3 separate regions of the Homo sapiens genome follow, and all the other regions are linked to region 1. Evidence: fine-mapped expression QTL. A gene starts in region 1. Each other region holds a variant in brackets. All regions are shown on one strand. Distances are between the middles of the regions. Region 1 holds the start of UNC119B (unc-119 lipid binding chaperone B). Region 2 overlaps CABP1 (calcium binding protein 1). Region 3 overlaps LOC105370029 (a long non-coding RNA gene).

Region 1 (2,673 bases):
GGGCATGAGGTTACCAAGACCAGGTGCTGAGCATCTGTACTTTCAGAGCCCCAAATGAAAACTGGTTCAGAAGAAAAGAAGCTTTTTCACACTGTTTCAATAAAACTAACAAGAATGTCTAAAGATACGTTCAGGTCTGGTAAGGACAGTCTCAACCCAAACAGTATTGGGAAACGGGGGCATCCAAATATCTAGAATCAAATTAAAACTCTTTTAGGAAATGGGAATTCCCTTTCGCACAGGGTGGACCAAGGCCTACTCCCCCCAAATTTCCATCCCCAAATTACTAGAGCTGCAATCGGCAACCTGAGGTGCACCTGAACAGCCCTGGGCTGCCTGCTATAGCAGCTCAGCAGACACCATGGCAGCCTTCGATCCATCCAGGGAATGTTGCTGCTGCCACAGGGTTAGGAGACTGCACGCCAGGAGTGATGGGCAGGCCAAGATAGGCCTAACTAGGTGAGTGCACACTCCTGCAGGGAAAACAGCAGCAAGAGAAAAGACGTCAAGTCAGGGACTGGCTTGGCAGAGAACAGAAAAAGGGAGATCACCCAGGGCAGGGACTGGGCAACATTTTTCTTCCCACCCATCCTCCTATCAACGAAAAAGCTTAGGATGGTTGCCTTTTGTGCAGGAAACGCATTTCTGAAACTCTGAAATCATTCTTAATTCACGAGAATGTCAAAAGCAGGATTCACATGTCGGAGTCTGTACACAAACTGAAACTTTATTTTTGTTTTAATGTGGCACAGTTTTAAATGAGCAGGAAATGCCACGGCTATGTGTTTTGAGGAAGAACCCATCTGCACACTAAGGGGCAACGCTCCCGACCCAAAGAGGGAGGGAGGCCGGGCAGGCTGCAATGGGGGAGGGCTGCCATGGGGCCAGGGCGGAGGAAGCAGGTAAGGCTTCTGGCCTGCCAGAGGGCTGGGGGAGCCTGGCTGAGCGGGAACTTCACTGATGGCCGGGGGTTCCAGGCTGAGGGCCCAGGGGCCCATTTATTAGGGGACCTCGGCCCCCGGCCGGCTCAGGAGGATCCAGTTCAGCTGAACGGGGCCCTCTACCCAAACAGGTCCGGCAGAGCTGGGGAGCCGACCGGCCGAAGGGCATCCTAGCGTGGCCGGACTCACAGGAATGCGGTCCAGCCCAGGAGAGTCCTTCCCCACCAGAGCTACGTGAGCGTGGCGGGAGCAAAGCCCGGCCGGCGGGGCAGCGGGAAGCGCGGCCCGGCCGGCCGAGGGGGTCTGGCGGGGACCCCCGCGCTGGTCAAGTGGCCGGGTCCGCTGAAGGCTCCGGGAGCCGGGGCACGGCGCGAGGGGAGGGCGCGGCCCGCGCGGCACTCACTCTCGGTGACCCGGCTGAGGCGCAGGACGTGCTCGGGCCGGATGGTGTCCAGCGCCAGCAGCTCCTGCTCCGTGACCGCTGCCCCGACGCCGTCGTCGGCCGCGTGGTGGGGCGCCTGCCGCCGCGCCTTCAGGCGGTTCAGGACGCCGCCGCCCGCCTTCTTCTTCTCCTCCTTGCCAGCCACCAGCCCCCCGGGCCCAGCCGCCGACGCCGCGGCCGCAGCCTTCGGGTTAGACCCGCTCATCGCTCCGCCGCCAAGATGGCCGCCGCCTCCACAGCGCGGTAACTATGGAGAGCGGGGGCGGGGCCCGGGGCCCGGCGGGGAAGGGGCGGGGAGGGGGCGGGGCGGGGGCGGGGGCGGGCGCCCGGGGGGCTGTGGAATTCCCTTTCGCACAGGGTGGACCAAGGCCCACTCTCCCCAAACTTCCATCCCCAAATAACTAGAGCTGCCATCAGCAACCTGAGGTGCACATGAGCAGCCCTGGGCTGACTCCTATAGCAATTCAGCGGACGACACCATGGCAGCCTTCGATCCATTCAGGGAATGCTGCTGCTGCCACAGGGTTAGGAGACCGCAGGCCAGGAGTGATGGGCAGGCCAAGATAGGCCTAACTGGGTGACTGCACACTCCTGCGGGGCCCGGGGGGCGGTGCTTCGGCTACTGCCCCAACTTTGGTCCTGCCAGGTGGAGGGCCTAGGGGTGGCTGGAGCTTCAGCAACCCCACTCCCCATCAGACCCCCAAGATCCTCCACGATGTTTAAATACATATCTTACGGTCAAATGAATTTACGTCATATAAACTTTCCTCCTCCTCATCCTCCTCCTGGTCTGAAAGAGCACACAGAATCTTCCGTGCACCATCTCGGCATTCTCAATCCAAGAGTTCTGTCACCAGTCCCAACAGCACAATGGCAACTAATTCCCAGTAATCACACCAAGAAGAAGAATGGCCAGTGTTTACTGCGCACTTGCTATATGGCAGGACACTTGCTATAGGGCAGGCTCCTCACCTCACAACAACCCTGTGAGGTATTACTGTCTCCATTTTACAGATCAGGAAGCTCAAGTTCAGAGAAGTCAGGTAACATGTCCAAAGTCCCTCAAGCAGTAAGAGGAGGGAACAGGGATTTTAATCCAGGTCCATCTGACCCAAGGCCTGTTCTTCAACACTAAGCTATTAGTGGACAATGCATCTTGAGAAAATGTTTATTAATATATTTAGCATAGAAGGTAAGTTAAAGCAGTGTTTGTTTTGCAAAGGCAGTTTCAAGACAAACTTTCCAATGAGATTGCCATCCGTAAGCCCTACTGTGCCAGGCCCTGGGCTA
Region 2 (2,673 bases), 43 kb after region 1:
CCCCAGACATGGGATCAGAATCACTGCGGGGGTGGCCCAGATCTGGGCTTCACAAATGCTCCAGGCAATTCTGCTGTATGCTAAGATTTGGGAACCAATGGCTTGAGGTACACCGGCCACCCCACACACCTGCCCAAGTACGCTCCAAGCCTGTCTAAGACTCGACAACTTCTACCCACAGATTTCTCCTTTGGGCTGCTTTAAGACTTCACTTATAGAAACGAATTACAATGGGTCTTTTCAATTGCATGATTCCACTGCAGTCTGAATAGCAGTCCCTGGGGTGTGCCGTGTGGTGCAATGCCCTGAGGGCACTTGCTATGCACTGACCCCATCCTTTATCATCCCCACATTACACAGGAAGAAACTGAGCTTCAGAAAGGGGACGCGACTGGCCCTAAGTCACACAGCAAGCAAACCCTGGGCCTATTGGCTACACATCTTCCTCCCACTCAGCAGAGAGGATGGCAGCTATTTCTTTCTTTTTTTAGACGGAGTCTCGCTCCGTCACCCAGTGGCATGATCTCGGCCCACTGCAGCCTCCACCTCCTGGGTTCAAGCGATTCTCCTGAAGCTGGGACTCTAGGTGCATGCCACCACGCCCGGCTAATTTTTCTATTTTTGTAGAGACAGGCCACGTTGGTCAGGTTAGTCTTGAACTCCTGAACTCAGGTGATCCTCCCGCCTCAGCCTCCCCAGAGTGCTGGGATTACAGGCATGAGCCACGGCGCGCAGCCAGTGGCAGCTGTGTCTATATCTGTCTGTCCGCACACACTGGGACTTCCTCCAGAGCAAAACCCTTGACATCACTTCACTGGGCAAGCCTTTTCTGACCTCCCTACAGGAGGCCAGGCCTCCTTAGTATATCCTGCCGAAGGTCCCTATATTTTTCCTCAATAGCAGTATCACAATTTGTAATCCTATATGATGTGTTTCTCTCATGCCTGTCTCTCCAACCAGTATAAAAGTTCCAGAAAGTCAGAAGTGATACAGACTCTGCTGGATGCTTCTCTTCTTATAGAACCTGATTTTGTTTGGGGAAGCTGAGTACCCAGCTAAATAACTAACTACATTCTTCAGTCTCCCTTAGCAGTCCCAGGTTCTGGCCCACGGATGAGAATGGAAGTCACTGAGTACATAATAGGTACTCAATAAATGCATGTTGGCCAGGCATGGAGACTCACGCCTGGAATCCCAGCCCTTTGGGAGGCCAAGGCAGGCAGATC[C/A]CTTGAGATCAGGAGTTTGAGACCAGCCTGCCCAACATGTGAAACCCCATCTCTACTAAAAATACAAAAATTAGCCAGGCGTGGTGGCGGGCGCCTGTAATCCCAGCTACTCGGGAGGCTGAGGCAGGAGAATCGCTTGAACCTGGGAAGCAGAGGTTACAGTGAGCTGAGATCACGCCACTGCACTCCAGCCTGGGTGACGGAGCTAGACCCTGTCTCAAAACAGAAAACACAGGAAGGTCAAAAGAACCCTCATTTGACTTCTTCTCGAAATAAATAAATAAACAAACAAAAAATGCTGAATGCAAAAATGATCAGCAGGTTCTGGGCATGCAGTTGGTACTCAGGAAATGTGAGGGTCATCTAACCAGGCCCAAGGAGGAAAGACCATCACGGCTGTCTTGCTCTTGGAAATATTTTTATTGGTTCTGAGATAACAGGGCTGAGGCGAGCTGGGACGGGCGCAGAGCGAAGGTGGGAGGCTTTGCCCTGGGGCGGACATGCTGTGTGGGGTCTGCTGGCGGGCTCCCTGGCCCACCCAGCCAGCAGCAGCTGGGCACATGGCCCTTGGCGCCTGGCATGACCTCTGCCGGCTTGGCACGGTGGCCTCCTCGTCGGCGGGCGCCCCCGCTTTCCAGTTGCAGGAGTTAGTCTTTCACAGTGCGGAGGGGTGGGGGTCCGGGGTGGGCGCCTCCCCGGGGTGCAGGCAGGCCCCATCCGCCAGTACATCCTGGGCTCTCGGCGGCTACAGCGGGTGAGGCAAGCTCTAGCTCCTCTTAGCCCCGCCTTTGGGAGCTTGGCAGTCCTGGAGGGGCCCTCGCGGCCTCAGCGGGACATCATCCGGACAAACTCTAGAAGGGTAGAGGAGCAGCTGGGGAGCAAGCAGCAGCCAGAGGCCTCCCCAGGTTGCTGCCTTCAGACCCCACCCTGTTGCCACTGCCCCAACTCTGTGCTGGTCCCCCATCCATTCCGCCCTCTCCAATCCATGGACACAGCAGCCAGCGAGAGTGTTCTAATCTGCGGATCTGACCGCTGCGTAAACCTCCCACAGCTCTCCACTGGAAAAATCTCCAATATCCTGACACAGCCTCATGGCCCTCCCTGATCTGGCGCCAGCTGACATCTCCAGCCATATCTCTCAGGCTAACTCCCAACCTCTGTGCTCCAACTACACAGATCTTTTCAGCCCCTCAAGTGCAGCTGGCGCACTCTCTCTCTCACCTCTCAGCATTTTTTTTTTTTTTTTTTTTTTGAGATGGAGTCTTGCTCTGTCACCCAGGCTGGAGTGCGGTGATGCGATCTCAGCTCACTGAAGCCTCCACCTCCTGGGTTCAAGCGATTCTCCTGCCTCAGCCTCCCTAGTAGCTGGGATTACAGGTGTGCACTACCACGCTTGGCTAATTTTTGTACTTTTAGTAGAGATGGGGTTTCACCATGTTGGCCAGGC
Region 3 (2,673 bases), 26 kb after region 1:
AGTCAAGGCAAAAACAAAAAAAACAAAAAAACGCTTATGCATTTTCCATAAATACTGGTCGATTTAGAAATTCTCCCTAAAAGGAAAAAAATGTATCAAGTCCCTGCTACCAGGGTTGTCAGATTTGGCAGATAAAATAGGAGAAGCCCAGTTATATTTGAATTTCAGATAAGCAAATGGGACCCACTTATACTAAAAAAAAAAATGCATTGTTTATTAAAATTTAAACAACTGGACTTCTTGTATTTTATCTACCAATCCTACCTACTACTTAGGCAATGAGCTTTGTGCTACATGAACAAAAAACACACCTGGGGTCCCGCATGAGAATCATAGACTTTGCACAACCCATAATGAAATTAATTGTTTAGTTAGAACAGTGGTAAGTGCTATACGGGAACAAAACAGGGTGCCAAAATAGAGACTATCAGTGGTGGATCTAAATGCACCCAAATTCCTTCCCAGGCCCCAAATTCAGACCCCATGGGGGTAACTTTTGGAAGTGTTCCCTCCCGGTCTCACTTTCCCCCCTATTTTGCAAGCATCTGGCCTTACTTCCTCCCATAGACATGTTTCCTGTCCAAGGTGTTTCTTTTTTTTTTTTTTTCTGTCTTTTTTGGAGACAGAGTCTTGCTCTGTCGCCAGGCTGGAGTGCAGTGGTGCAATCTCGGCTCATGGCAACCTCCACCTCCCGGGTTTAGGCGATTCTGCTGCCTCAGCCTCCTGAGTAGCTGGGACTACAGGCGCGCGCCACCACACCCAACTAGTTTTTTTTATTTTTATTAGAGACCGAGTTTCACCATGTTGGCCAGGATGATCTCGATCTCCTGACCTCGGGGTCCGCGGCCTCCCAAAGTGCTGGGATTACAGGTGTGAGCCACCACACCTGGCCTCTTGGGGTTTCTAATTCTACTATTCTCTCTCTCAAACTGTCATCTTTTAAGGATCTTGACAACTCAGAGGCTTCAGTTACCCTCAAAGGAGGGGTGTGGTGCAAATGGGGAACAGAAACACAAGTAGTGGTGATGGGGCTTCCTCCCTCCAGGCAGTTGGCCTGCAGAGCCCACGTACCACTCAGGTATTGCACTGCCACCAGGCGCTCATGTTTATTTTATCCTCAAGGCAGTCTAGTCCAGGAGAAACAATCACAAAAACGGATTAAATTTTGGGGGAGGCCTCTAAAGGCTTTCTCTCAGTCCTTCGTGTCTTTGGTCACCCCAGAGGGTGAAGAAGATACCCGGCTGGCTCCTGTTATTGAGCCCTTCAGATACCATTC[G/A]TGGTTGGGCCATCTGTGTACCAAGGAGCTTGGCTCCCTTTCTGAGATCCAGCTGCTCATGAATTAGGCTGTCTTTTCAGTAAAACGTAAAGTCTGAGACCCTGGAGGCAGGGTATGGGATCCGAGCGTGGGATCTAAGACAGGCTGCCTGCATCCCATGCCTAGTCCCATTTACCCACTGTGTGGCCTTGGGCAAGTGATGTACTTCGCTGAGTTTCAGTTTCCTCAGTTGTGAAATAGAGATACAGTCATGAGTCACTTAATGACAGGGATGCGTTCTGAAAAATGCATCATTAAGCGATTTTGTCATTGTGCAGAGATCACAGAGTGTACTTACACAAACCTAGATGGGGATAGCCTGCTATACACCTAGGCTATATGGTATAGCTGATAGCTCCTACACTACAAACCTCTACAGCATGTTACCTTACTGAATACTGTAGACAGTTGAACACAATGGTAAGTATTTGCGTATCTAAACACAGATACAGTATAAACACAGTATTGGCCAGCCTAGTGGCCCATGCCTGTAATTCCAGCACTTTGGGAGGCTGAGGTGGGTGGATCACTTGAGGCCAGGAGTTCGAGACCAGCCTGACCAACATGGAAAAACCCTGTCTCTACTAAAAATACAAAAATTAGCTGGGCATGGTGGGGCGCACCTGTAATCCCAGCTATTCGGAAGGCCGAGGCAGGAGACTCGCTTGAACCCGGGAGGCAGAGGTTACAGTGAGCCGAGATCGCACCACTGCACTCTAGCCTGGGTGACAGAGTGAGATCCAGTCTCAAAAAAAAAATATATATATATATACACACACACACACACACACACACACACACAAAATTTTATTTATTTATTTATTTATTTATTTATTGTGGAGACAGATTCTCACTATGTTGTCCAGGCTGGCCTCTAACTTGTGGCCTCAAGCGGTCCTCCCGCCTTGACCTTCCAAAGTCCTGGGATTACAGGCCTAAGCCCCTGCACCCAGCCAATATTATAATCTCACGGGACCATCATCGTGTATGTGGTTCGTCATTGGCTGAAATGTTATGTAGCACATGACTGGAATACTTTATTTTACTTATTTATTTTTTGAGACAGAGTCTCACTCTTGCCCAGGCTGGAGTGCAGTGGCATGATCTCGGCTCACTTCAGCCTCTGCCTCCTGGGTTCAAGCAATTCTCGTGTCTCAGCCTCCCAGATAGCTGGGATTATAGGCATGCACCACCATGCCTGGCTAATTTTTGTATTTTTAGTAGAGACAGGGTTTCTCCATGTTGGCCAGCCTGGTCTTGAACTTCTGGCCTCAAGTGATCCACCTGCCTTGGCCTCCCAAAGTGCTGGGATTACAGGTGTGAACAACCGCACCTGGCCTGGAATAGTTTCTATTTCA

Evidence for each region.
Region 2: its variant is fine-mapped to the expression of UNC119B in tibial nerve (GTEx, PIP above 0.99).
Region 3: its variant is fine-mapped to the expression of UNC119B in tibial nerve (GTEx, PIP 0.92).

Annotation. Positions count from the first base shown.
Region 1 is chr12:120,709,390-120,712,062 of GRCh38, reverse strand. UNC119B (unc-119 lipid binding chaperone B) reads right to left here and starts at 1,605. Exons shown (of 5, transcript NM_001080533.3): 1 at 1,345-1,605. The coding sequence starts at 1,588. It overlaps LOC124903036 (a long non-coding RNA gene), which reads left to right and starts at 1,557. Exons shown (of 2, transcript XR_007063491.1): 1 at 1,557-1,626; 2 at 1,789-2,130. RefSeq lists silencers at 1,296-1,565, 1,656-1,715 and an enhancer at 846-1,688.
Region 2 is chr12:120,666,279-120,668,951 of GRCh38, reverse strand. It overlaps CABP1 (calcium binding protein 1), which reads right to left. Exons shown (of 6, transcript NM_001033677.2): 6 at 1,628-2,077. The coding sequence ends at 2,052. Among named protein-coding and RNA genes, the nearest start is that of MLEC, 20 kb to the left of the region's middle. RefSeq lists enhancers at 1,201-1,721, 1,722-2,243. The variant C/A (reference allele first, on the strand shown) is at 1,227.
Region 3 is chr12:120,683,477-120,686,149 of GRCh38, reverse strand. All of the region lies in intron 1 of LOC105370029 (a long non-coding RNA gene), which reads left to right. Among named protein-coding and RNA genes, the nearest start is that of MLEC, 2.3 kb to the left of the region's middle. RefSeq lists a silencer at 997-1,086. The variant G/A (reference allele first, on the strand shown) is at 1,277.